Linked DNA regions of Homo sapiens: region 2 is linked to region 1. Evidence: fine-mapped QTL for protein levels in blood plasma. Region 1 holds a variant in brackets. A gene starts in the other region. All regions are shown on their forward strands.

Evidence for each region. A credible set is the group of variants that fine-mapping cannot tell apart. PIP is the posterior inclusion probability: the model's chance that the variant is causal. The UK Biobank Pharma Proteomics Project read protein levels with antibody pairs (Olink). The fine-mapping took linkage between variants from a reference panel, not from the people measured, so its PIPs are less certain.
Region 2: it holds the start of OPTC, and the variant in region 1 is the best candidate, but not a certain one, in a credible set for the plasma level of the OPTC protein (UK Biobank, PIP 0.76).

The regions. Positions count from the first base shown.
Region 1 is chr9:76,661,048-76,663,963 of GRCh38, forward strand. All of the region lies in intron 9 of PRUNE2 (prune homolog 2 with BCH domain), which reads right to left. LOC105376095 (a long non-coding RNA gene) reads left to right here. Exons shown (of 12, transcript XR_007061586.1): 12 at 2,588-2,916. Among named protein-coding and RNA genes, the nearest start is that of PCA3, 100 kb to the right of the region's middle. The variant G/A (reference allele first, on the strand shown) is at 1,601.
Region 2 is chr1:203,492,910-203,495,825 of GRCh38, forward strand. OPTC (opticin) reads left to right here and starts at 1,244. Exons shown (of 8, transcript NM_014359.4): 1 at 1,244-1,308. RefSeq lists a silencer at 737-965.

The sequences.
Region 1 (2,916 bases):
ATAATATCTAAACCTTTGTTGTGTTAAACCACTGAGATTTGGGGTTGTCATAGCAGGTAATGTCACCAAGACCTCAGTAGCCATTCTGCTTAAAAAAGAAACATCTAAAACATAATAATGCAGAAGTGTTGACAAGAAAGTGGTATTTTTAAAAAACAGAGAAATACTAAACACAAGAAAGCATTACAATATTATTATTATTTATCATTATTGTTAGTATTTTTTGGTACAGTCGTCCAGGCTGGAGTACAGTGGTGCAATCTTGGCTCACTGAAGTCTCCACCTCCTGGGTTTAAGCGATTCTCCTGCCTCAGCCTCCCAAGTAGCTAGGATTACAGGCACCTGCCACCATGCCCAGCTAAGTTTTGTATTTTTAATAGAGATGGGGTTTCACCATGTTGGCCAGCCTGGTCTCAAACTCCTGACCTCAGGTGATCTGCCTGCCTCAGCCTCCCAAAGTGCTGGGATTACAGGCATGAGCCACTGCACCTGGCCAGCATTACAGTATTAATGCCCAGCAAAACAGACTTCAGAAAAGGCATTATTAAGGCTAAAGAAAGTTATTATTTAGTGATACAAGGAATAATTCTTCAGAAGATGTAATAATTGAGAGCCAATGTGTTCTTAACAACATAGCCTCAAAATATGTAAAACAAAAATTGAAAATACATTATAAGGCAAAATAAATTTCATGGGGTAAAATCTGAGTATACCTCTCAAGAATTTATAAATTAATTTGAAAAGAAATATATAAGAATATGGCAGATCTGAACAATGCAGTAATATAGCTTGATCTAATGGAGAGATCTGCAGTCAATAAAAACACAGTTTTTTTTTTTTGAACTCACCAAAACTTACCATACGTGATGTCTCATAAAATACCAAAAGTCAACATCACATGTACTATATTCTCTGACTTCGGGGCCATACCTCTAGTTATCAATCACAAAAAGTCTCCAATCACAGTTTGGAGACTAAAAAACACACGTGTAAGTAACCAAACAATAAAGCCCTGCACATCCAAACTTGTGAAAGCAGCTAAAGAAGTTCCTAGAGGAAAATAAATAGCCTTAAGTTCAGATTTTAGGAAATAAGATGAACTGAATTAGCTAAGCATTCAACTCAGCCCAGGAAGTTATAAAAAGAAACATGCTCTTAGGTGACTTGATGCTATTTATGCTAAATCTTTGCACCTTCTCTAATGATCCTGAATACCACCAAATGGAGAAAGAACGGTGATAGAAATGGAAGTCTCCAATTTGAGAATGAAGCCCACGTATATTCGTAGATTGTGTGTTTCTGATACTTACATTTCTTCATATGGAAGGCTAATTGCAGTATGTGACAGAGAATGAAGGACAACAAATGCAGAACTTTTGGACATAAATGCACCTTCTTGCCTTTAGAACAGGTACAAAATTAAGCCCATTCTGCATTTTGTATTTTTTCAACGTATCTGAATCTGGAGGGATTTGACTGTTGTTGTAGGATTAGCTTTGCCTGAGATTAGGTTCTTTTTAACAGGAAATGAGCAGTGAGCCAAGAGCTGGCACACACATACCAGTAGCATTTCTAGATGGTAATGTTTCCTGACAGACAC[G/A]GATATCCAGCAGCAGGTGGCACCCCTTTTCAGGAATAACCACTTTTACAAGATTGGCCACTGAAATATATACCTCCATAAAAAGTAAAGTAGCAGGTCATGACATGGGGTCCATTGTTCTTTAGAAAAATACTGACGGTTATGCTGATATATTTTGGGAAAATGATTACATAAAGAGAAATATCTCTTGTGTTAAGAGTTCCTTAATACTCTCCTGGCTTCTTTCTAGTCTATTAAGATCTGCTGGACTGATAAGGTTGCTGTCTCTAGAAACAGAGATAAAAAGAAAAAAGAAAACACAAACAAAACCTTTCATGAGGTGCTTGCCTTCCCTCGTTAAGAATATCAATTAGCCTATGGGCTGGAGGACTGCCATTTGAGGGTTCTTGTCTGATAAAGTAGGCTGCTCCATTTAAGCCAGCAGTACATGGCACCCTGTGAACCACAGAGTACTTATCAAATTACTCAAAGTAGGAGGTGAGACTGAAGCAGCACTGAGCTTCACACTTTGCCTAATCAAGCTAATCCCAAGACAGGAAATGCTACAATAGGAAGCTGGGGTCAAGCCCATGAAATAACGCTCTTTAGCAACAGTTCGCTAACCCAGCTGGGCCTCTCTCATCCTAGAACAGGTAAGCACTGTGGCCAGGCAGGGAGAAGCATCTTAGAAGCCAGCCAGCTGAAGAGAGATGAAGGAGGGAGGTGAGAGCTGGAAACTGACTGCACACAGTAGGAAGATAAGCGCCGAGCACTCGCCCAGACACCTTCTTTAGGGAATGTGCAAAACTGCAGAAACCACAGCTAAACATTCTCAGGTTCTCAGAGGTGGGGGACACGACGCAGCCTCCTTACCCAGGGTCAGATTCTAAAATTCTGCAGGGAGCAAAAAAATCACTTGTAGCTCAATGATCCTCAAACATTTTCTTGAATTGTTCCCTGAATAGAGTGTACATGGTTTTGCATGTCAATTTTTTTTTCTTTTTACAGTGAGGCTTAAACATGAAAATTTGAGGAACGCTGAGCAGGAATAGAAGGAAAGCCTACATTTTTATCATTTCAACCTCTTTGCTTTTCAGAGAATAATTAACTCCTTGGCTGTGAATGATGGATGCATGGAGAATTCTACCTCTTGCCTGCAGGCTATTTGCTAGCTTCTTTTAATATTTTTCCTATAACCTTAAGATCTATGAATAGATTTGTTTGTTGTGGAGAAGATTAAATTAGATGGCATAATCTCACATTGGAGAGGGGCATATACTTATTTAGGAAGTGAGTTTACAGTTCACAACCAGGATGGCTCAAAGGGATCTCAAACT
Region 2 (2,916 bases), not on the chromosome of region 1:
CCTGGGTGGGCGCCAGGGCACAGGCTGGCAGAAGCTGGGGAAGACTCCTTAGCCACCCCACCTCTGCCTTCAGCAAGGACTTGCTCGGCAGCCTGCTCGAGGCACCAAGGAAAGGGGAGTGTTTCCAGATGAATGCCGTTGGCCCTCTGTATCTGTGGGTTCCACATCCGTGGATTCAACCAACCACAGATTGAAAATATTCAGAAAAAAAAAAAATTCACAACGTTCCAAAAAGGAAAACTTGAATTTGCTGTGTGCCAGTACTATGTGGAATCCATGTGAATGGAGTGAGGTGTAAGCATTGTGTTTGGTGTTATAGGTAATCTAGAGATGATTTGAAGTACACAGGAGGATGTGCGTAGGTTATGTGCAAATTCACCATTTTATATAAAAGACCTCAGCATATGTGGATTTGGTATCCACTGGACGTGCAGAACCAATCCCCCATGGTTACTGAGGGACGACTGTACATCTCTGAGGGTGCGGGAGAGGATACTTCCCAGGCCCCCGAGACCCTACACAATGTCTACTGGTGTTTATGATCCTTTCTAGGGCCCACCTCCCAATTTCCATTTGGTTTCCTCCTAGCAGATTTAGAGAATTTCCCGTATCCTCATGATCATCATCTGTGAACTTGAAGTTGGCTTTCAAATCCGATCTCATCCCCCATACACCTTCTCTTTGAACTACCTAGGCCTGCAGCTCCTGTCTCTGGTGATTTTATTCAATTATGGTCTCTGTGCTGGCGCTCTAGGTGAGGGTGAAGTGCCTCATTTCCACCTATTTTTATCTTTGGATTCTGGCTATGAAGCTGAAGCCTTGTCACTCTCTGGCTGGAGAAAGAAGCTGCAAAGACAAGCTCTATCTCTCCATATCCCCCGACTCCAGCCTTCTCTGAGGACTCAGAATCTGAGGGATGGGGCCCCTTCCTTGCAGGGGATGGCACTCCCTGTTCCTCAAAGATGTGGCCTTATCAGGAGAGTGGACAAGGAAAAGAAAGAAGGAGCTGACAGAGTAAGAGGAGAGAGAGCAGGAGCTGGAGGTGGGGGGTGAAGCGGAAGGTGGGGGGAGAATTCTCTTTTGTCAAATACAGGAATGGGGCAGGGGACCCCCTGAGGAAAGAGGAGGGGAAACAGCTGGACATCAGAAGGAATGAGAAGTCTGATTGGTCGCAGGCCTGGCCAACTCCTTGCCCTCCCCCGGGCACCACTGTCTAACCCAAGCCCCAGTTCAGACAGCCTCCACCAGAGTCCCCACCTTTCTGGAAGCTGCAGGGCTCTCCATCCAGGATCCAGAAGCATTGAAGGGGTAAGGCTCAAGGTTGAGGCCTCTGGCCATCGGTGCGCAAATGAGGGCAAAGTGTTTGGCTGGGGCAGGGGATTGGGAAGGGAAAATGAAGAGAGTTTAGGCCTCTGGCCAAAGAAGTTGGACAAGACTTTTGGGTGGGCACTAAACTCTCTTAGAAAAATTTTTTTTGAGATTATGTAATTCGTTTGGGGTGAGGTATGGGAGGTAAGGTGAAGAAACACCTCTTGCTACTGCTAGAGGCTTGCCCCCTTGCCCAGCTAAAATTAAGAAAGGGTGGGGAGGTTAACTGGGCATGGTAACACACGCCTGTAGTCCCAGCTACTTGGGAGGCTGAGGCAGGAGGACTGCCTGAGCCCAGGAGGTTAAGGCTTCAGTGAGCTGAGATCATGCCATAACACTCCAGGCTGGGCAACAGAGTGACACCGTCTTAAAAATAGAAAATAAAATAAAAATTAAAAGATAAAAAAAATTTTAAAAGAAAGAAAGAGGGAGAGTCTACTAGAAACTTGTGCAGCTAGCTTTGGGGAGGGCTGTGTTAAGCCTACACTGGGTATGACTGTTGTATACACTTATGCCTGGATACAAAACCACACCACATGCATTTCCTGACCCGTCTATACATATACGAACTACATGAACATTTGTACTCACATGCATATCACATACATACGCAGGCATCTGTGTGCACACACACACAAATATACACAGGTATCTAAGGAAATTTCCAGATGCGTACACACTCATGCAATCACACACAAAGAACTCTTTTATCTGTAATAATCTGTTTCTAAAAAGCTGCATTTAGAAGTATATTTCATAAACTAACATTCTTTTTTACATTGTATGTTTCATTGTAAGTCCATGTCTCCTAAAGAGACTAGGTGCTCCTAGGAAGGGCTGTGCCTCATTCATTCTGTACCCACAGAGACAAGTCCTGTGCCTGGAACTCAATAGACACCCATAAATGTTTGTTGAGCAAATGCATGAATGGATGATCTTTATAAAAAACCACAAGAGTCAACTGGGCGCGGTGGCTCACACCTGTAATTCCAGCACTTTGGGAAGCCAGGGTGGGTGGATCACCTAAGGTCAGGAGTTCGACACCAGCCTGGCCAATATGGTGAAACCCCTTCTCTACTAAAAATACAAAAATTAGCCAGGCATGGTGGGTGCCTGTAATCCCAGCTACTCAGGAGGCTGAGGCAGGAGATTCGCTTGAACCCAGAAGGCGGAGGTTGCAGTGAGCCAAGATCGCACCACTGCACTCCAGCCCGGGAAACAAGAATGAAACTTCGTCTCAAAAAAACAAACAAACAAAAAGACCCCATAAGATTATTTGATGTTGACATTCTCTAAATCGAGCTTAGTGACTAGCAGTCATGTTCTGAGCATGGGGTTGTTTAAGAGAGGACATCTGTGTGCATGCACCAGTGTGTGCCTCGTTTGTAAACAAGGGGACTCTTGTGAATGTGTCTGTGTTGAGATGTGTCTGCACATGCCTCTGTGAGTGAATATCAGTGTTTGGGTGAGCGTGTAAAAACACTCAAGTGGGGCGGTGGAGGGAGGGGGCTGCTAGGAGATACCCCCCAAGACATAGTCCCAGCTGGT